Linked DNA regions of Homo sapiens: region 1 is linked to region 2. Evidence: fine-mapped expression QTL. A gene starts in region 2. The other region holds a variant in brackets. All regions are shown on one strand. Distances are between the middles of the regions.

Evidence for each region.
Region 1: its variant is fine-mapped to the expression of APC in monocytes (Quach 2016, PIP 0.95).

The regions. Positions count from the first base shown.
Region 1 is chr5:112,695,134-112,711,098 of GRCh38, forward strand. It overlaps a transcript of APC not described here. Among named protein-coding and RNA genes, the nearest start is that of APC, 35 kb to the right of the region's middle. RefSeq lists a silencer at 9,019-9,313 and enhancers at 9,019-9,313, 12,345-12,404. The variant T/G (reference allele first, on the strand shown) is at 12,554.
Region 2 is chr5:112,734,769-112,742,768 of GRCh38, forward strand. It overlaps APC (APC regulator of Wnt signaling pathway), which reads left to right and starts at 3,117. Exons shown (of 16, transcript NM_000038.6): 1 at 3,117-3,157.

The sequences.
Region 1 (15,965 bases), 36 kb before region 2:
AAATGGTGAATTTTGCTGTGTATAAATTACAGCTCAATTTAAAAAAACAAAAACAAAAACAAAAAACTCTGACCCAGATCACTGTGGTCATTGTTGGTGGAGACTGCTGGCCTCTTAGCTCTCTTATGAGTGGGGTTACCAGCTAATCCCTGACATATTTGTGGTTCCAGGACTCCTAAAGGGTTGTGCAATGGTTTGTCTCCTTTCTCAAAGACAGCTGCTGGCTGATGGTAAAAGATAAAGAGAAAGAAAGATGTACACAGGCAAGTCAGGGAGAAATTTATCTTTCTTTTCCTTCCTGTCTTTCTTTTATATTCTTCCTCCCTCTTCTATTTCCTGCAGCCCTTATTTTTCTTTCACTTACTTTTCCTATTTATTCATCAGCTGAAACCTTGCTGAAAGGGATTAGCTGGGGGCTAAGTCGAGTAGGGCAAAAGGAAGCATTTGCTTCTAATCAGTAGTACACTGGTAAATGATTAGTAACCAGCTCTCTGAAACACCCACACACACACACAAACACACACACACACAAACACACACACACACAAACTAAAGTTTCTTTTAAATTTTACTGATATGAAGAGTATATAGCACAGGCTGGGTGCAGTGGCTCACGCCTATAATTCCCAGCAATTTGAGAGGCTGAGGCAGGTAGATCACTTGAAGTCAGGAGTTCAAGACCAGCCAAGGCAACATGGCAAAACCCCATCTCTAATAAAAAAAAAAAAATACAAAAATTAACTGGGCATGGTGGCACACGCCTGTAATCCCAGCTACTCAGGAGGCTGAGACAGGAGAATTGCTTGCACCCGCAGGCAGAGGTTGCAATGACCCGAGATCATGCCATTGCACTCCAGCCTGGGCAACAGAGCAAGATTCCATCTCAAAAAAAAAAAAACAAACAAAAAGAAAAAATAGAGAAAAAAGAGTATATAGCACATAGTGTATAAATATTAGCAAAACAGAAAATGTTCTTTAATGTGACTTTCATATAGCCAATAATTCTCCTGATTTTTGCCCATGATTGTTTCATTGATTTTTGCTGAACTTTTGTATCTGTAGCCAACCTATCATTATAAATAACAAACAAGTGTAGTTTTGACAAGAATCCTGGCTGATATTTTCTTAGTCATTAATGAGTAAGATGAAAATGAAACAACAAAGATATATGTTAGAACTTTATTTATTTGTCTATAATGTGAGCGACTTGGAAGAATTTGATAATGGTTTTTAAATACCGGAATAATATTTCCTCAATCTGTGTGCTATTCGCAAAGTAAGAGCAATAGACGTGACACGCTTTTAACTTTAATGTACAGCATTAACATTTTCTCCATCACTAGACTATCAACAAAACAATAAGTCAAGCCCAGATTTTGAGCATTTCTTGAGTTCCCTGGTGTAAATGCTCTCGCTCTGGCCAATTTCAAACTACCAATGTGACATCATTGAACTTAGTGTTTTGAGTAGATGTGCCCTAGAACATTATACAGTTTTTCCACCATTTAGATACAAGAGATGGAATGGCATCAGGAGCATAGGAAATGGTTAAATGTGAGAAAATGATTTGAAAGTGATGAGTTTTGAGTGCTTATTACCTTTGTTTTCAATATAATTTATTGAATTGCAATTTTATATTATTTAATTTTTAATAATAGCTGTGTGTAATTGCCAACTCATAAAATCTCTAAACTGACTTTCTCTCAGTTCTTTAAGCTGGTTCCAGTCTACTAAAGATCTTGGTGCAAGTCTCTGGATCCCTCCCCAACCCCAAATGACGGGGGAGCTGTAGCAGCATGAAGGGAGAGCGGATGCAAACATATGTTGTTTCTCTTGAGCCCCACCGCTCTCAACGTGCTGCTGGGGCTGCTTTGGTCTTGTGGGATGTTCCCCTGAGCTACTCAGACTGGTTGTTAGGGCGGATTATCAATGTCATCAGCCAAACCATAAACTGTGTCAAGATATTGATGTGAATTTCAGTGAAATAAATGATTTGGTTTTCTTTGTTAAATTTTATTCATTAAAATATGCTTTTATAAAATGAGGATTTATTGTAGAGGGCAATATTGTTATTCTGAAATGCCTTTCATTTTAAAGTAAACCTGGAAAGAGCACCACCAAAATGGTGACAATTCTTATCTTGAATGGTGAGATTTTTTTCTTTCTTCTTGAGATTTTCTGGAGTTTCCAAATTTTCTATGATAAACAGCTAAGATTTTGGTAGTATGAAAAACAATTGAGACAAATCTTTAGTAACTTGATATTCAAGTTACATTGGTGCTGTCCCTTTAAGTACTAGAAGAATACGTAGCACTTTCAGTAAAATAATGCCGAGGGAGGAGACATTGCTATGCTCAGTTTCATTTAAAAGCCAGATGTCCAGGAATTGGATATGGCTAATTATCAATTTCTACCCAGATGGAGAGTTTTCCTTTTTTTTTTTTTTTTGTCATTAGACAGAAAAGCACAGAGTCTCTGGCTGATTATTGCATTCAGCCACTTTAATTGGAAAGTTTTAAGAAATAGGTGGAGCTTAAAAGAAGGGAAGCTTAGTGTATCATGAGTGAAATGTTGATACAGGCACAAGAGAAACAAAAAAAGAAGAAACATGTATAATTGGTGTCATAAAGATTTTCAAACTTGCTCTATGACCAATTCAATTACTGCTGGAAATGGAATTCATACCTTCTCATGTCTGCCTTCCAAATTATACCAAGATTTAGCAGCTTATAACAAGAAGTATTTTTTTTTCACAGTTTCTATTGGTCAGGAATTTGAGCATGGTTTACCTAGGTACCCGTGCTTCAAGGTCTCTCATAAAGCTTTCAGCCAAGTCTGTGCTATCATCTGCAGCCTTGACTGGGAGAGTCACTTCCAAGCTCTCTCACATGATTGATGGCAGGGAGTTCCTCATGAACTGTTGGACTAAGAACCTCAGTTCTTCACTAGCTTTTGGGCAGAGGCCTCCCTCAATTCCACGTCAGGTGGGCCTCTCCATAAGGCAGTTTATGTTCTGGATTGGAGCATGTCTTCCACCTTGGTTCATCCATCATTTCTTGTCTTCTAGACACTTGCCAAATCTCTCATCAGCTGATGGAACATTCTTCATTCTCAATAGTCACAAATTTATTCCCTTTTATGCAGTTATTGGGCAGGGAACAGACCCAGGTTTTATCATGAAAGGGTGTTGCATTTTGTCAAATGCTTTTTCTGTATCAAATGATGTGATTACACATGAATTTTCTTCTGTAGCCTGTTGTATGTAGATAATGTAGATCACATTGATTTTCGAATATTGAACTAGCCATGCATACCTGGGAGAAATCCTACTTGCCATGTCATATTTTTTTTAAATATATTATTGGGTTTGATTTTCTAGTACACTCAAAATCCTCCATATCTGTGGGTTCTGCATCCATAAATTCAACCAACTGCAGATCACAAATATTTAGAAAAAGAACAATAAAAATAACAATATAACAATGAAAATAATAAAAATAAAAACCAATATAGTATAACAACAAGTTACATAGCATCTATCCTGTATTAGGTATTACAATCATGAAGTGCATAACAATATTTTAGTCAATAACAGACCACATATACAACGATGATTTCCTAAAATTATCATTCTATATTTTTGCTGTAACTTTTCTATGTTTAAATATACACACACCTACCATTGTGTTACCATTACCTACGGTATTCAGTGCAGTAACCTGTTGTATAAGTATGTAGCCTAGGAGCAATAAGCTAGATCATATATCCTATGTGTGTCCTAGGCTATACCATCTAGGCTTGTGTAAGTACATGCTATGATGTTTGCACAATAACAAAATCACCAAACGCATTTCTCAGAATGTATTCCTGTCGTTAAGCAGAGCATGTCTATAAAGTCATCTAGAGGTGATTTAACATATACAGAGGATATGCCTGGATTATATGCAAATACTGTGCCATTTTATATAAGAAACAAGTATCTGTGGAATTTGGTATTCTCAGGAGCTTGAAACCAATTCCCCATGGATTCCAAGAAAAAACAATGTTTCGTTGAGGATTTCTGTGTCTAAGTTTATGAGAAATATTGGTCTGTAATTTCCTTTTATTCTACTGTTTTTGTCTAGTTTGGGTATCAAAGTAATACTGGCCTCATAAAGTGAATAGAGAAGTAGTCCTTCTTCTTCTATTCTCTAGGATAGAATGTTTAAAATCAGAGCTTATTCTTCTCAGAATGTTTGGTAGAGTTCTCCAGTGAAACCATCTGGGTTTGGAGATTTCTTTTTCCAGAGCGTTTTAGTGGCAGTTCAATTTATTTCATGGTTATAGGACTATTCTGTTTCATCTTGTTTGAGCTTTGGTCATTTACGGTTTTCAAAAATTGGTCCATTTCTTCTAAAGTTGTTTAATTTATAAGTGTACATGTGTCCATGGTATTCCCTTTTATTCTTTTAATAGCTGCAAGAATTATAATTATATCCTGTTTCATGACTGATATTGGTAATTTGTGCCCCCTCTCTTTTTATTTTGTCAGGCTTGCTAGAGGTTTATCAACCAGCTTCATGTTCTATTGATTTCCCTATTGTTATTCTTTTCAATTTCATTGATTTCTGCTTTTATCTTTATTATTTCCTTCCTTTTGCTTTTTTTGAGTTTATTTTGCTCTTCATTTTTCTTGAGGTAGAAACTTAGGTGATTAATTTGGGATCTTTTCTAAGGTAATCATTTTATTTTTTTGAATGTAGTCATTTAGTGCTATGAATTTCCCTCTCAGCACCACCTTAGCTTCATTCCACCAATTTTGATATGTTGTATTTACATTTCCATTCAGTTCTGTATATTTTCTAAAACTTTCCTTTGAGACTTCCTCTTTGCTGAGGTATTATTTAGAATTGTGTCATTTAGCCCAGGCACAGTGGCTTACGCCTGTAATCCCAGCACTTTGGGAGGCCAAGGTGGGCAGATCACTTGAGGTCAGGAGTTCGAGACAAGCCTGGCCAACATGGTGAAACCTTGTCACTACTGAAAATACAAAAATCAGCCGGGTGTGGTGGTGGGCGCTTGTAATCCCAGCTACTCGAGAGGCTGAGGCAGGAGAATCGCTTGAACCCGAGAGGCGGAGGTTGCAGTGAGCCAAGATCGTGCCACTGCACTCCAGCCTGGGCGACAAGAGCAAAACTCCGTCTCAAAAAAAAAAAAAAAGAAGTGTGTCATTTAATTTTCAAGTGTATCGAGATTCTCCCATTGCCTTTCTCTCATTGATTACTAATTAAATTTCATTATGCTCAGAGGACATATTCTGCATAGTTTTGTTTTCTGGCCAAAGATGTGGTGTGTCATGGATGCTTTAAAAAAAAAAAGTGTATTCTACTGAGTGTTGTATTAATGTCAGTTAGATCCTATTGATTAATTCTGTTGTTCAAGTCTTCTATGTATTTGCTGATTTTCTGCCTAGTAGTTCTATCAATTACTGAGAGAGGGATGTTGATGTCTCTAACTGTAATTGCAGAGGCCCATGATAAGGCATTGAATTTGAAAAAAAAAATACAACGTTTGAATATAAATTTAGGTGAAAAAGTAAATATTTCTTTAGAATGAAAAAATAAATCTAGAATGCTGACACAAAATCCACAAGCATCACAAAACCTGGAAAAATAACACAAGTGCATTATTTTACTGCCTGACATACCTCTGTAGTTTTGTCCTAAATTTTTTTCTAGATGCTCTTTAAGTGGTGATTTTGTTTTATTATAATTTAATAGATTGAATAGAAATATAATTGTCTTTCTTCTAACATGGTTAATCACAAAATTTTTATTATTGATAGTTTAGATTTTTTTCAGCTTGACAACTTGTTATTAGTAATGGCTTGTGATTTCTTAAGATTGTTATCTCATTTGGGAAAATTTCCATCATGTCTTTTCTTTTTCCGTGTTACCTACACGTTCATTTTCCATATGTGCTATAAAGTTTGGAAGAATTTTCTATAGACTAACTTCTGGCTGTATACATACTTCGGGTTCAGGTGCCACAGAACATGTTCATGTTACAACACAAACTCTGGTCCTGCCCCATTGTGTTAGAATGCAGACAGAGTCAGGCACTGGACTGTAGAAGTACTCCTGGAAGTTATTACTCCACTAAGATAGTTATCAATAAGATACTAGACACAGACATAACTATGAATCACATAAATATCCTCTGACCAAATTTTTAAAAATGTCTCTTAAACTCAACTTCCCCTTAGCTGGAACCCAAAGTTATTACAGCTACTCTAATACCACCTGACAAAACAGACCTGTGACAGACAGTAAGTCAAAGTGGAAAGAGAAATGCCCTTAACCAATTGTGATTAAGAGATACTACTTTTGCAGATTTTACAAAAACTTATGAACATATTGCTAAGGCATTTTCCAGGACCTTGAAAAGGGCCCACGCAAGTGAAGAGCCTTGAAGCTTAACATTCATTAGTTTCATCAAAAATTAAGTCCTGCTACTGATATTTTAGTGGAATATACAGAGGAGAAGGAAGTAAACACTGGTACTTAGCCCCCCATCTAGCAGCAGAAGTTTCTTGGATGTCTTTTTAAAAGTACTTTTTATTATGAAAAATTCCAAGCATACACAAAAGTAGTAAGAATAATATAATGAATACTCATGGTACTCATCATCCAGCTTCTGTTTGTTTGGACACTTTCAATTCAAGAAATTGTAGGAGATAAATACAAATATGAATAAGATATGGCCTATGCCCTCATGTATGTATCTATTATAGTAAAGAAGACAAGACATGAGGCCAACACATGGCAATGTAATACTACCTAAAGGAGAACAATAAGCCATGGAAGCAGAGATGACCTCTGGCCAGGGATGACCAGTAAGGGCTTCAAGGAAGACATGGTCTAGGCAAAAAACAAGTACACATTTTAACTTGTCGACGCTGAGACAGAATTGAGATATCTAAAATACATATTTTCTGGGTTTTTACCCTGGAGCTCCTCTTGACATTTAGGAAATAATCCAACCTCCTTACTATCTATCTAGACCTCTAACTGGATACTCAGATTCATTCAGATTTAAGTATCATGTATTGAGTGCTTGCCAAGTGTGACGGCTAATTTTATGTGTCAACTTGACTGGGCTAAGGGACGCCCAAATAAGTGATAAAATATTATGTCTGGGTGTGTCTGTGAGGGTGTCTCAGAAAGAGAGTAGCATTTGAATTCATAGACTGAATAAAGAAGATCTCCCTCACCAATGTGGGTGAGCATCTTCTCCTGCCTTGGACGTTAACTCTCCTGTTTTTTCGAGCTTTCAGACTCAAACCGGCATTCATACTGTCAGCACCCTGATTATCAGGCCTTCAGACTCAGACTGAATTACACCACTAGCTTTTCTGGTTCTCCAGCTTATGGATGGCAGATTGTGGGATTTCTTGGCTTCTATAACCACATGAGCCAATTTTTATAATAAATCTCATATATATTCTAGTGGTTCTGTTTCTTTGGAGAACCCTAAATAATGCACCAGGTGCTGGTCATTTTCATATGTACCATTTCATTTAATCCTCACAACACAACAAGCCTGAGATAGATATTATAAGCACCATGTCTGAAGATGAGAAGAAAAATCCAGAGAGACAACTTGTATAAAGCTGCACAGATTAAAAAAAAAAAACATAACTAAGCCCAGAAATTCTAACTTCAAGTGTTTTTTATCACCTACCCCTTCATGGTACTTTTATTAAATTTTCAAAATACTTCCCCATTTCACAAACCTTCAGTGGCTCTCAGTCACTACATGATGAAATTAAATGTCCTTAGTTTACCATTTTCCATTCTCTACAATCCAGTTTGGTTTTCCTTCAACTTTATTTTCCATTTGTAAGACTATGTCTTAATTCTCTTACTGTGTTTAGGAGATTGCCCTCCTCATGAAGCAGAAATTCCCTCTCACTATCGAAATTAGAAGTTCATATGCTCATTTTCCTGGCCTTCCTATCAATTACCGCTGTGCTGTCAAACATGGTAGCCACTGGCCACACGTGGCTACTGAGCACTTGACGTATGTCTAGTGGCACATGTTGAAATATTTTGGATATATTGGGTTAAATAAAATATATTATTAAAATTGGTTTCACCTGGTTTTTGTTTTGCTTTAGAGTCAGGGTCTCCCCCCCGTCACCCAGGCTGGAGTGCAGTGTCACAATCATAGCTCACCGCAGCCTGGAACTCCTGGGCTCAAGTGATCCTCCGGCTTCAGGTTCCTGAGTAACTAGGACTACAGGCATGCACCACCATGCCCAGCTAATATTTTTTTGTAGAGACAATGTCTTACTATATTACCCAGGCTGGTCTCAAATTCCTGGTCTAAAGCAATCTTCCCATCTCAGCCTCCCAAACTGCTTGGATTAGAGGCTGGTTTTTTGTTTTTGTTTTTGTTTTTAAACTGTCTTATGTGGCTACTAGAAAATTTAAAATTATGTATGTGGCTTGCATTATATTTCTATCAGACAGCATGTAGGTAGAGTGTTAATGTGTTACTAGGTTATATCCATGATTTGCCCCCATTCTAGGCTTGAGGTTGAAAGCTAATGTTGTGAATATGAAGTGACCCTCCATTCTGTTGAGAGTAGTGGCAGTGATAGTAACTGCATCTATCTTCCAGAAGCAGCAGAGGCATCATCCACTCTGGGTCAAGTGGTACTGGCAGTCTCAGTTTTGGTATTTGCATCCAGCAGTGGCTACAGTGATGGCTTCTTGGGACCAGTTCCGGGCATAATGTTGCGTGTTGTTCCTGAAGATCCTGTAGATGTCAAATATCCTTCTAATAAATTCCTTTTCTGCTAAGGCCCTTCATGAAGTCTCCCTCTCCACCCCAGTCCACAGGATCCTTCCCTTTTTCAGCATCAATAGTGAATAAGATCCAAACCACGCACTTGGCACTTTGCCCATACTATTTATCTTATCATAGGAAAGTGTCTAGTTTTCTCAGCCAGACTGTAAAATTCCCTGTGGCAGGAACCCTGTCTTTACATAATTGTTTCTTAGTATCTGTCAGACCTTGGTCACAGCATCACTGGAGGAATACTTGTTAGTTACCACTGCAGATCTTTGAAGTAGGCAGGGTGGCTGTCATTATCTCTGTTTGTACAGATGAGGAAACTGTTGTTCAGCGACTGGCTTGAGGTTGTGCAGCTGGCTTGCTCATACTGGAGCGGTAGCTCAAGCCTTCTCACTGCCTGCCAACATCTCTTTCCTCTATTTCAGGCCCTGCCAGATAAAATGGTGTATTAATTTCATAGAGCTGTTATAACAAAGTACCACAGATTGGGTGGCTTAAAACAACAGACATTTATTGACTCAGAGTTCTGAAAGTTATAAATCCAAAGTCAAGGTGTCCACAGGGCCATGTTCCCTCTGAAACCTGTAGGAAAGTCCATGCATGCCTCTTCCTAGCTTCTGATGGTTTGTTGGCAGTCTTTGGCATTCCTTGGCTTGTAGCTGCATAACTCCAATCTGCCTTTGTCCTCATCTGGCATCCTCACGTTCTGTCTATGTCTTCACACGGTCATCTTCTTAAAGGGACAGTAGTCATGGTGGGTTATCCTACCCTATTGCAGTATGACCTCATTTTATCTTAATTATATCTGCAATAATTTTATTTCAAAATAAGGGTACATTGTTTGGTACTGAAAGTCAGAACTTCAACATACCTTTTTTCGGAGTAGTACAATTCAGTCTCTAACAGATGGTAACCATAAGAGAAGTAAATACCATAGAAACTGAAGACTTTGTCTTGTTTCTAGGATTTATTCCAAGGATTACATTGTAGTGAGGTAGAAGGCGGGGAAGTGTTTTCAAGTATATATTCCTACCTACTACTTGATTTGCATATGGACTGATAGGGCTTGGTTGAAGAGCATATGTTATGGGTTCAGTGAATCTCTTCTCTCATATAAGGACTAAATGGCCCCCACAGATAAGATGCCAGCCCCATCCTTTCTGGCAGGTCTCCCCAGCCATCCTGAGGCAGCTATCCCATTTAGAGGGGAAATGATGGTGTGTAATTCTGATAAGTCAATGGAAGAAGAGGTTGTTGCAGTGAGCCTATAACTCTTTTCCAGAAGGGTCTTTGGGGGTCTAAGGTATCAGCTGGGTCCTAGATGGGCCAGCAAGTCCCATCTAGGCACATTGAGAAGCCTAACCAATAGATGCAGCTAGCCTTTAGACTATGTATCCATTTTGCTGGTATTTCTTCTTTTCCTTTAATGAAAATATATATGTTATTAATAAAAATAAATACAGAATTTAAAAAACATTAAAAGGAAAATGCTAAAATGAGTTCTGCTCTAGTTCAAAAGAAAAGAACGACAGTAGTTTCCAGGCAGGCCCTTTGAGGTCCTACACAGGGATAGTAATACGACTGGGACCCTTAAGTGGGGGTAACTGAATGAAATCTCTAATGAAAGCCTGCTAATGACACAGAATCAAATCTCTGAGTAAGCCTGTCTCCAAATCCAATTTCTCTAGATGGGAAGGGCATGGGCTTTATGGTCAGCACTATCCCTTAATGTGAGACCTTGGGCAAGGGACTTAATCTCTCTGAATTTGCCCATGTATAAAAGTGAGGATAATTATCTAGCAGGGCTGTGGTGAGGATTTCATATCTAACATAGTTCACAGCACATATAATAGGGATTGCATTAACTTGAAGCCTTCCTTCTCTCCATACTACAACATATGTAATATAAACCCTGCCCACTGTCCCACAATCACCCACCCTTCTCCATCCCATCTGCTCTCTCTCCAACCTTCCTACTTATATTCTAGCTGAGGAGACATATAAATAAGAAGTGACTTGCATTTCATTTTAAAAACCAAGTGAAACCAATATAGTACACCACCAACTACTTAGATGCTGACAAACTTCCACACTTATTAAATCAACAAACACTGAGTGACAGAGCACTCATGCCAGGTATGGTGCTATGCACTGTGTATTCATTGGTAAACAAAACGTATTCCCTGTCTTATGGAGTCGACTGTTTAGTGTGGAGGCAGTGAAGAAACAAAACATAGATCATTTAAAAACATATTGAGTACCATGGAAGAAATGATAAGGTGCAATGATTGAGAATAATAAGGAAGACAGGGGAAAATTTATTATTCTTAGGAAGGACGGTCTTTCTGAGGTGATATTTAAACTGAAACTTGAAAGATAAGAAGTTAGACATTTAAAGAACAAGAAGAAGTGTCTTCTAGGTAGTCAAGGGGGCATATACAAACCAGAAAGGCAGTCGGGAGCTAGAAGTGTTTGAAGAGGAGTAGTGGGGGCTAGGGGAGACAGCGTCAACAACATACAAGGGCCATTTTGAATAAAATCCAACTTCTTACCATGACCTGGAGGCCCTACCTGATTTGGCCTCTGCCTACCCCGACCACATCTCCTTCCCACTGTCCATGTCACCTATTCTTTCTGTCCCTCTTTCATGTCAGACTTGCTACCACCTCAGGATCTGTTCTGTTGTTCCCTCTGTCTGAAAGCTTTTGCCCCAGATCTTCCAGTGGCTCCTGGGCCCCCATGGTCAGTCAGGCTTCAGATTAAATGTCAACTCTGGAGAAAGATCACTAATCACCACCTCTCACTGTCCATCATCTTTCTGTGTGGTTTGCTCTCTTCCTATCCCTTATCACCATCAAACATTCTTTTGTTGACTGTCTTTTATTGTCTATTCTTTCACACTAGAATGTAAGTTCCGTGAGTTTATTGTATTTCCTATTGCTGTAAATCTAGAGCCTGAAACAGTATCTAGTATATATCGGAAACCCAAATGATATTGTTCAATTAATGTTGAATGAAATGAAACTGAAGAGGTAATCCAAGGTAAAGAACTTATCAAACTGTGTGAGACAAACAAGGATTTCCCGGAAGAGGTGTTTTTAAATTAAAACTACAGGGTGGTAGTGAGAGGTGGTAGGGAAGCAGAGGTCGCAGCTACAAAATAATAACTTGCTCATCTCCGTTTCTCCGCTATCTTATGAGCCCTTGTGGGGCTGGGACAGAATTTTATTCATCTTTCTATCATCAGCGTCTAGTACGGGGAGTAGCAAATAGTGAGCACTCGATAGATGTTTGCGGAATAATGGACTAGTGTGTGCAGAAGGATCTATTAACTGGGCTGCAGCACAATTCAGAGAAGGCCAGTAAGTGCTGCAACTGAGACTCGGCTGCCTAGGCAGCAATGGCTCACGGGACAGAACAGCGAAGCAGTGCCCGGCAAGCGGAGCGCAGCACCCATTGCGCCTGCGCATAACAGGCTCTAGTCTCCGGGCTGTGGGAAGCCAGCAACACCTCTCACGCATGCGCATTGTAGTCTTCCCACCTCCCACAAGATGGCGGAGGGCAAGTAGCAAGGGGGCGGGGTGTGGCCGCCGGAAGCCTAGCCGCTGCTCGGGGGGGACCTGCGGGCTCAGGCCCGGGAGCTGCGGACCGAGGTTGGCTCGATGCTGTTCCCAGGTACTGTTGTTGGCTGTTGGTGAGGAAGGTGAAGCAC[T/G]CAGTTGCCTTCTCGGGCCTCGGCGCCCCCTATGTACGCCTCCCTGGGCTCGGGTCCGGTCGCCCCTTTGCCCGCTTCTGTACCACCCTCAGTTCTCGGGTCCTGGAGCACCGGCGGCAGCAGGAGCTGCGTCCGGCAGGAGACGAAGAGCCCGGGCGGCGCTCGTACTTCTGGCCACTGGGCGAGCGTCTGGCAGGTGAGTGAGGCTGCAGGCATTGACGTCTCCTCCCGGCAAAGCTTCCTCGGCTTTGCCCCGCCGCTGCTCGGGACCCTACGGTGCTCGGCCCGACTCTGTGGCTCTCTTCTCTCCATGTCTCACCCTCTCCCCTCCCCGCACTCCCCATTCAGGCCTCCAGTTGGCCCCTGGCTTTGCAGGTCCTCCATTCTCACGCAGTGGATGGGGGTCGCGACGCCCGCCGTCCTCCACCTTTCCTGGCTGCTGCTGGAGCTTCGCCCCTGCAAGTGGTGCCCCATTCGCGTTAGGTGGGTGGGTCGTCCGCCCTTCCCATTTTAGTCGCTTCCCCATCTTCCTCGTTTGGACCCTCTTGCTTCCTCTAAAAGTTTTAAACTCTCTGCCTGGGAAAATACCTGATAGCCCGGCATGTGGAGTTACAAAGAAAGGGCTGTTATCCAAAGGCCGGTGAATTTTGTTCACTTTGATGGGAGAATCAAGTCCCCAGGAGCCTTGGATGGTTAGGTCAGAGTCTGACTCCTTGACCCACCAAGTAGAGGAATGGTGCCTCTGTTGGCAAATGATTGTTCATCTAAATCATTCATTTTTTTCGGCTGTAGGAAATCTTTGGTCTCTGAACTGTTGAGGTGGGGGCGTGAGCTTTCTAGATCTAGTGAAAGAATTGGAAACTGTTATATTCGTTTTAAAAAAGAAGACCTTATGCAGTACATGTAAGACATCACTTAATGGTACAAGCAAGGATAAGTGATTTATTCTTTTATTCAGTGTTAGCTTAAATTGCCTACTGACGTCTTAGAATTCCATGTTGTACAAGCCCTTTGTTTCTATTTAGAAAGGACTAAAATGGAGAAAAGCTTTTTAAGTTCAAAACTTCTTAAATTGCTTGTATTCTCGATTGTTGTTACTGTTCAACCCTCCTTAGGAGTACTTGATATTTTCTATATGATTTAGTCTTGTGCCAGTCTCAGTACTCCCTCCTTTATTAGTGGAGCAAGGGTAGTCAGAATTACTGGTGTAAAAAACTGTCCTAAATAACGTAGTACCTTGCCAGAGTCTAAGTGCAAAATGTGGGATCAAAGCGGTAGTGGAGGAAGTTGCCATGGCTAATTTTTCCATCTTTCCCTGGATGGAAGGGTTGGATAACGTGTCAAGAGCCCCAAAATTGTAGAAGTGAGATTAAAAATATAAATGATAGCTTGCCCTTTGAAATTGCAAATGGGTGGACCTTTTTTATTAACATTAAATTGAGCAATATCGTTTTCTTGAAGTTATGCTAGATGTTCTCCAAAGTTGTTAAGCACAAACTATGCCTGCTGTATTAGAATTGTATGTTAAAAATTTTTAACGTGTGGGTTATAAATAGCCTGGCAGATTTGTTTACTTTTCATTCTGTCTCATAACACATAATCTATTTTTCCCTTTACTGTGGACTTTTGACCTTTTAATGCATTTTTAAAATTTAGAGATAGAATTGTTCAGCTTAAAAGAAGGAGGAATATTTTTATGTTTGCTTCTTGTATGGGCTAGTTCATTCGTTGCTAGCCTTCACTTTTCTGGAACCAGAGCCTGTGTGTTTTTAGAGCTGGTTGTCTCTGAATTCTCTGCATACAGTTTGAAGGGGCAGTAGCAAAGCAGGGGTTGCTGAGCCCCAATCAGTGGCTCACTGCTTCTGGCAAAATGATTTGTAGCTCTGTATCAAAAAACATCTGACCACAAACTCTTTAAAACCTCTCACTTTGGCAGGGTGTGGTGGCTCATGCCTGTAATTCCAGCACTTTGGGAGAGGCCAAAGCGCATGGATCGCATGAGTCCAGGAGTTCGAGACCAGCCTAGGCAACATGGCAAAGCCTCATCTGTACAAAAAAAAATACAAAAATAAGCCAGGCATGGTGGTGCATGCCTGTGATTCCAGCTACTTGGGAGGCTGAGGCAGGAGGATTGTTGGAGCCCGGGATGTGGAGGTTGCAGTGAGCCAAGATTGTGCCATTGCACTCCAGTCTGGGTGACAGTAAGACCCTGTCTCCTAACAAACAAACAAACCCTCTCACTCTTCCACTCTTATGGAATTTGGTATTTTTTCCTTTCTCTCTCTCTTTCTCTTTGTGAACCTTCTTTGTCTCCCTGTTCTTCCAACCCATTACCCTAATGCTGATTTCATTTGCCTCCCTGTGTAACCAGGATCCCATGATCATCAGCTTTTACTAAGCTCCTATTGATGGCCTAGAATGCTTCACTTTCTGTAGACTTACCTTTCTAGTCCCCAATCCTAAATAAGCCTCGCTAGCTTTACCAGTTTGACCCCTGAAATTCTGAGGGACATCAGAGACAGCTATGTGAGGATATTGGTCAGTTTTTATGCCAGTTGGTGCTCTCTGCTGGGTCTCTAGTGTTGTGTTCCTTTTCTTCTCATTTCCTCAGGTTTTTATAGCAAATAACTTAATCTCTTCCTTTGCTGAGAAAAATCTCAACCATCTGAGGTATATTTCCACTTCACTTTTTTCATCTCAGTGTCATCTCTTTATATATATATATCTCAGAGGAAGAAATGACCTTCTTTCTTTTCAAGAGCAACCCCCTCCCTCCAGATGTGTCCATGTACCCTTTCCCATCTTTCTTTCTCTAGAAACTGTCCATTTTCACTTCCTGTCCACCTTCTTCAGCCTCTCCCTCTCTAGCCTACATAGATGCTTGTATCTTCTGCCATATAAGTGTGTGTGCTGTTCAACTCTAGGAGGACGTTCTAAAGCTTGAGTCTGCTATGCCACTGTATTTCTATTCTTTTCTTTAAAGACTTATTCTTTCATCCCAGGAAGCTGTTATAGTAGGAAGAACATTGACTTTTGAGCAAGATAGAACTTTTGATCTGGGTTTTTGAAGTCTTTTAAAACCACTTTAGTAGCTGTGTAACTGTGGGTATGTTACTATTCAGATTTCATTCTGTATCTATAAAATATGTTATACTTAGCTCACAGGGTGGTGGTTAAAGAAATTAATACATGTTAAATGTCCATCCAAGTGTTTGGTACATTGTAGAGTTCTTACTAAATGCTTCTGTGCTTTGCACTCGTACTGCCTTTACCATTTCACCACTGAAACTACTGTTTTAAAAGTTATCTGTGACCTCCGAATCACCAAATCCAATGACGTTTCCTCTGTCATCCTTGGTTTCCTTAGACCCAGGGGTCCCCAAACCCCAGGCTGCAGACAGGTATCAGTCCT
Region 2 (8,000 bases):
GGGTTTTCTTGTGTGTGTGTGTGTGTTTTTTTTTTTTTTTGAGATAGAGTCTTGCTTTGTCACTGAGGCTGGAGTACAGTGGTGTGATCTCGGCTCACTGCAGCCCCCACCTCCCAGGTCCAAGAGATTCTCATGCCTCAGCCTCCCAAGTAGCTGGGGAATGTAATATTTAAGACATTAAGAATCCTATTAATCCTATTTAGTCATTTTTTTTTGTAGCTGCAGAAGGTTCAGAAGGGTTTTTTAAGTTGAATTATATGTTCATATTTACAACATTTACATATGAAACCATTTACTAAAAGCAATGAAGCTGGTTATAACAAACACTGATACTGAAAATAAGAGATATGTTTGTCAGTGCGGTCTTTAAACAGTGTTACACAATTTATTTCTGTTTCATTTTGATCAGAAAAAATATATATATCTTTTGAGACATGGTCTCTGTTGCACAGGCTGGAGTACAATGGCGAGATCTCGGCTCACTGCAACCTCTGCCTCCTGGGTTCAAGTGATCCTCCCACCTCAGCCTCTAGAGTAGCTAGGACCACAGGCGCGTGTCACCACAGCTGGCTAATTTTTTTGTATTCTTGGTAGAAATGAGGTTTCGCCATGTTGCCCATGCTGGTCTCCAACTCCTGAGCTCAAGTGAACTGGCCACCTCGGCCTCCCAAATTCCTGGGATTATAGGCATGAGCCACTGCACCCTGCCCAGAAAATATTTTTAATGCATACATATATATATATATATATGTATATGTAGTGTAAATAACATCTTCAATCAAATAGAGATGGCAGGAGCTTTATTCTGAGCTATGTGCAAACTTGATAAGACAAGGTAATGCTTCAGTAATTTTCCATGCTGAAATTTGGCCCAGTATACTTTGATTATATATCTATATTTAATTATAGTTTTAAAATAGCTAAGCAGTTTTAAAAATTCAAATTAAACTTTTGTGGAATCTCTAAAAATAAGAAAAATATTACTGAGTAATTGGCAACATAAAATACAAAATGTTTAACTTGGCTTTCTTTTAGATTTGAAGCATAGTGACTAATGAACATATAATGGTCGTAGCTTTCTTTACAACTATGTCATTTAAGTCACTGATGAATATCTATGATACATGCAGTAAAAATTTAGACAAACATTTTGGCTACAAACTGGTTTACTAAATAATAGCTTGTATCATAGTCTGAGTCAAGAGTAATAGGCTTACAATTGTGTCTTAGGGTACTAAGAAGTTCTTTTGAGGACCTTTTAAAAGGTATTCTTTGTTTTGAAAGACTGTTTTCCTTCTGGAAGTTCTAGGCCTTATGAGAAATTACCTATTCTGAATTTGTCACAAAAAATGACTTGTAAATAAGTCCTGTGCAGTGAATCATGTGCTTTCAGTAAGAGGATTTTGAAAGCCTTTTGTAAAATGAAGTCATTCTCAAAAGAGAGTTATTTAGAATATAATCAAATTGATTTACATGCTTTTATTTATTTCAAATATGAAGGGAAATTGTTTCTAAATATATTTAAACTTTTAATAGAACAGTAGTATGCCATCAGTGTGGAAATAACTCACTTGTTAAATAAATATTTGGGGTGTATTTGCTGTATATCAGGCATTGTAACACAGGGACTAATGAAAGAGAAAAAAAACAAAGCACGAAAGGACAGCAGAAATAGCTCCATAATCTCACTTTCCAGGAATAACCTCTATGGACATTTTGTTGTGTGTCTATTGCTTTTCTAATATATACATTTTTTAATCAAATGGAATTGCCTCAAATATGCTATTTAATAGCTTGCTTCTTTTCATACTATTTGAAAATTAAGAAACGATTATAATATGCTTCATTTAAAAACTTTAAGTTTAGGCCGGGCACAGTGGCTCACGCATGTAATCCCAGTACTTGGAGGGACCGAGGTGGGCGGATCACAAGGTCAGGAGATTGAGACCATCCTGGCCAGCATGGTGAAACCCCGTCTCTACTAAAAATACAAAACTTAGCTGGGCATGATGGCACGTGCCTGTAGTCCCAGCTACTTGGGAGGCTGAGGCAGGAGAATCGCTTGAACCCGGGAGGTGGAGGTTGCAGTGAGCGGAGATTGCACCACTGCACTCGCCTGGTGACAGAGCAAGACTCTATCTCAAAAAACAAACAAAGAAAACTTGAAGTATAGTATCCTTTTAAATTTTAAATAGATAATAGAAACTGGTTTCCCCCCATTTAAACCAGAATTTAAGTTTAACTTTATATATTCTTGACAGTTTGGATTTTGTCCTTCAACCTCATAAAATTGGGAATTTAAGCATCACCTGGTTCGATTTAAATGCAATGTAGAATTTGCATTAAAATACTACATTAAAGCCTCAGATTTGTAGTAGCTAACAGCACTTCTATGTATGTGTCAGGGACTGCTCTAAATACTTCATATATATTAACTCCTCTATTCTGTACTTCTGTTCCCGTTTTATACAGCAGGAAATTGAAACACTGAGAGGTTAAGTAACTAAAGTTACAGAGCTAGAGTGACAGGAGTAAAGCTTCAACTCAGGCAACCCAGACTTCCAGAGTTCTGATCTCCACTACTAAGCTGCTAGCATAGCTTTTCTGGTAACTATTTTTAATTCAAATATAATTCGAGTGATCTATCTAACAAGTCATCACTCTGACAACTCAGTGACTTGTAATGTAAAATTATTCATTGTAATTCATTTAATATTATTGTTTCTCTGTGCTGCAAAAATCATAGCAATCGAGATGTAATTTATTACTCTCCCTCCCACCTCCGGCATCTTGTGCTAATCCTTCTGCCCTGCGGACCTCCCCCGACTCTTTACTATGCGTGTCAACTGCCATCAACTTCCTTGCTTGCTGGGGACTGGGGCCGCGAGGGCATACCCCCGAGGGGTACGGGGCTAGGGCTAGGCAGGCTGTGCGGTTGGGCGGGGCCCTGTGCCCCACTGCGGAGTGCGGGTCGGGAAGCGGAGAGAGAAGCAGCTGTGTAATCCGCTGGATGCGGACCAGGGCGCTCCCCATTCCCGTCGGGAGCCCGCCGATTGGCTGGGTGTGGGCGCACGTGACCGACATGTGGCTGTATTGGTGCAGCCCGCCAGGGTGTCACTGGAGACAGAATGGAGGTGCTGCCGGACTCGGAAATGGGGTAGGTGCTGGAGCCACCATGGCCAGGCTTGCTGCGGGGGGAGGGGGGAAGGTGGTTTTCCCTCGCACTGTCTTAAACCGATGGCCTTTCCTTGGCACAGGGTCCACTGCAGCATGCCAAACGAGGAGGCAGGGGCGTCGTCCCCCCGCCCCCCACTGCAGCACTGGAGATGGATTTCCTGTACTTCGGATCCAGGGTTTTTGACAGAAGAGGAAGAAGGGGGAGGGGTAGAAGTGTTAAGGGGAGTCTGCTGAGAAAAGCTGTTTTTGAAGCCAGAAGGGGTTTTTGTTTTTATAATGCCATTTGACAGAGTGGAATAACAGTATCTAAGGAAACGGGTAGAGGACAACAAAGAATGGAGCATATTCATGGCGAGGAGCAAAAGCTCTACCCCATTGAAAGGCTTCTTTTCCTCCCTGGCGACAAGGACACATGCATTGGTGGCCAAAAGAGAGAGGAGACAAAACCGCTGCAGATGGCTGATGTGAATCTAGTGGAAAGAGCTACTGGGGATGAGAGAAAGAGGAGGAGGCAGGTACTGCAGAGCGTGAGTGGTGGTGTTGGTTGGTGAAATACTGGTCACCAGTAGTGTGCCTGCTTTTGTAAAACATCTAAGTAAACTCCCTGTGAACAGGGTGGCAAACAGATACCAGTGTCTTTGTTAGTTACAAAATGCAGTGGTAGTGGCTTTTTGCGGACGACTGCAGCAGTGCTTTTTCTCCCTCTGTTAGGCCGAAAAGACAACTGCAGAGGAATAAGAAACCTTGCAGCAAATGCTGGGGTAGAAGCCCATTTACAAGAAGCCATAGTTTATAAATGCAGCCTGAACAGCAGAAAAAAAATTACTGTTTTTTAAAGTAGGAATAATGTCAGGCTATGAATGTTTTGTCATTGGAATGTATTGGACACTTTGATTCTACATCACGAAAGTGATGCTCAAATTCTTTGATTTAACATAAATCCTATACGAAATCTTAATAAATTATGTATGAAACAGTGGATCTTTTCTTTTGTTAGTGAAGCTTTTATGCCATTAATTAGGTCATTCAAGAGCAAACCACTTTACAACGTAAATTACTTTGTCAAAAATTATGGTGAACAAATTTTTGTAGGCCTAATATTTAAGACCTATAGTTAAGTAATTTTATATTTCTCTTTGGTTGCTTTTAGATAACACTGAATAAATATTTAAGATATTAATTCAGTGTGCAAATATTTTAAATTAAAGCAACATGGCTTTTCTTCTAGATGTATTTCTGTTTAGTGAGTACTCATGAGATATACTCTTGATATAAAGTGTTTTTCATTGAGCTTTTTTTTCCTTTACCTAAATGTAAAAGCCTATCTTTATGCATACTTATAGTAGCCAGCCTGCCACACCTCCCCACTCCCTGAACAAGGATGGCAGTGGCTTTGTAAAGCCCTCCAGGGTCAGTGACAGTGTCTCTTAAATAATGTTTATGTAATAGAAAGTCTTAAGATGACCTATTATATTGTTTCAGTAATATTTTCAAGATAATGCGGAATTGGGCTGGCTTAGATAAATAAGACTACATAAGTTTTTCACTGATAAATTTAAATAGTTCTTTAAAAAATTATTTCTGCTTTAAGAATTACTTGATCATGGATATCAGGGTTAATAGTACTTAGGAGCCGGGCGTGGTGGCCCATGCCTGTAATACAAGCTAAACAGGAGGCTGAGGGAAGCTGAGGCAGGAGGATCACTTGAGCCTTGGCGTTCAAGACCAGCCTGGGCAACCAAGCAAGACCCTATCTCAAAAAAAAGTACTTAGAGTCTCTTTTTTAAAATCTGATGGAAACTATGGCTAGAACTAAAGATGTCACATTAAAATTCCAAATGACATTTAACAGCTAATATTACTCAGTTCTTTGAATTCCATTAGCATAGTGTTTGAGAGTCTATAAAACTATTATTTTTACATAAATTACCTTTTACCATTTTAACAGCTCATTGTAGCATTATTTTTATTTTAAATGTTAGAGACTCCTATTCAAGTATGTTGTGACTTTATCCAAGGTCAAATATTGTATAACAATGTAAAGAACTTAAGTCTTCTATTTTATTCTAATTCTATAAAACTATAATGCCTTTTATTACATACATACAAAATAATATATAACAGAGGTAATTTGAAAAACAGTGTAAGTCACTGACAAATTATTCAAAAAATGAAAAGGCAATCCTACTTGGTTGTGGATTTTTATCTACAATATAAGAATGCTTTAAAAAATACCTGGTGACTAAGCAAATGGAGAAGCAGCAGTTTTCATAATGACATTCATAAACGACTTTTTAAAGATCGTCTTATTAATCATATGAACACATTTAAGTAGAACAGTGTTAGATTGAGATGTTTTTCTGAATTAAATAAGAAATAAAGAACTAAAGTTTATTTCATTCCTCTTGTAGTATATCTAATCTATGACTGACCTATTGGCTTTAGTGGTCTTTGAAATTATTCACTGCTCTGATATGGCCTGAATTGTGCTGTTTAAGGAATTTAAAATTAAATATTCATAAATGTTTTATGAACTGAATTTAAGCTATTGAAGTTTTTGTTTTTTGTGTTTTTTTTTCTTTTTTTTTTTTTTTTTTTGAGACAGGGTCTCACTTTGTCAACCCAGGCTGGCGTGCAGTAGCAAACATGGCTCACTTGCAGCTTCAACCTCGCAGGCTCAAGTGATGCTCCCACTTCAGCCCTCCAGGTAGCAGGGACTACAGGCACATACCACCGTGCACAGCTAATTTTTATATTTTTTGTAGAGATGGGGTTTCACCATGTTGCCCAGGGTGGTCTCGAACTCGTGAGCTCAAATGATCCTCCCACCTCAGCCTCCCAAAGTGCTGGGATTTACAGGTGTGAGCCACCATGAAGTTTTTCCATTTGCATTAATTGCTCTGTAGATTTTACCATTTTTGTCTGTTTTATAAACTGTTACTCATTTTATGAAATTTAACCAATCTTTTATACTTGTATATGTTTAAATGATCTTTTATACTTGTATATGTTTAAATGTTCTCTTCAATTTTGATCTCCCTTCTCCCCCTTTTCTTGTATTAGAATCTGAAACCTACCTATGCAGCACATAAAATGGGATAGAGTATTATGGTTCAGAAAAGATGGGTAATAGTTTAGGAAATATATTCACTACATATTTATTAGGATACCTTCTAAATATCATCTTTGAAAAATGCTGGAGTCAAATAAGACACGTAAACTAATCTCTAAGAAAACTCATGGTAGAATTATGTGAAATTTCATTACAAGTTAAACACTGCTTTGGCTACTCCTAGGATATTTAAAGATTTATATAATCTAAGATATCCTCTAATTTAGAAGAATATGGTGGATTGCTGTTTGAAACACTGCTTTTTCATAAAATCTGCTTAGAGTCACAGAGAATTTTTGAAAACTAAATTACTTTTGAAGTACTAAGTATCTTGAATGTACAATGAGAACATTAGGTGAATAGGTATGTTCTCAAAAGTTGACTTTGTAAATCAAATCATACATCATCAGTTGATACAAGGTAAGCCTTCTCCCCTTTATTCTCACACCCTGCACCCACTCTTCTTGTGTGTTTAATATGCATAAATTCTTGAGAAATAGCATCATTTTGTGAGTCTGTTTTTTACAGTTAATGAGATTTTTAAAAAAATTTTATTGTGATAAATATACATAAAATTTACCATCTTAAGCACTTTTAATTGTACAGTTCTGTGGCATTAAGTTCATTCACATTGTTGTGCAACCATCACCACCACCCATCTCTAGAAATTTTTAATCTTCCCTAATTAAAACTCTGTGCACATTAAACACTAACATGCCATTTTCCCCTCCCCCCAACCCTTGGCAACCACCACTCCACTTTTTGTCTCAAAGAATTTGACTATTCTGGGAACCTCTAATAAGAAAAACCATTTAATATTTATTCTTTTGCACCTGGCTTATTTCACTTAGCATAATGTCTCGAAGGTTCATCCATACTGTAGCCATGTGTCAGAATTTCTTTCCTTTTTAGGTCTAAATGATGTTCCATTGCATGTATATGCCACATTTTGTTCATTCATCTGTCAGTGGACACTTCAGGTTGTTTCCACCTTTTGTCTATCATGAATAATGCTACTATGAACGTGGGTGTGCAAGTGTCTGCTTGGGTTTTACTTTTTTTGTGTGTACTCAAACCTGTGTTTTTAATTTACATAATTTTTGAACATTATTAACTCAATACTGTTTTTAAGATCTATCCATTTTACTTTATGTCCATCTAGTTTGTGATGCTAACTCTGCTCTATAGTATTCTATAGTACCTATCACTGTTCCTCCAGTGAAGGCCGTAAGTTTTCTCCAAATCCCGTTAACCACAAACACCTTTATGATATACATTCTTATACATATCTCCTTGGACTATGTTATTTATGTATTTCTGTATAACAAATTGTACCAAAACTTAGTGGCTTAAACAGTTTCTGTGGGGCAAGAATTCAGGAATGTCTTAGTTGGATGGTCTGACTGAGGCAGGATCTCTTATGAAGTAGCAGTCACGATGTCAGTCACAGATACAGTCATCTGAAGGGCTTGACTAGACTGACGGATCTTCTTCCAAGATGGCTAACTCACATAGTCTCAGTTTTTCATTGGCTATTGGCAAGAGACCTCAGTTCCTTGTCACGTGGGCCTCTCCATGGGGCTGCTTGAATGTCTTCATGACATAGCAGCTGGCTTCCCTCAATGATTCTAACAGAAAGGCCATTTATGACCTAGACTCAGAAGCCACACACCATTGCTTCTGCTGTATTCTCTTTATTAGATATGAGTCA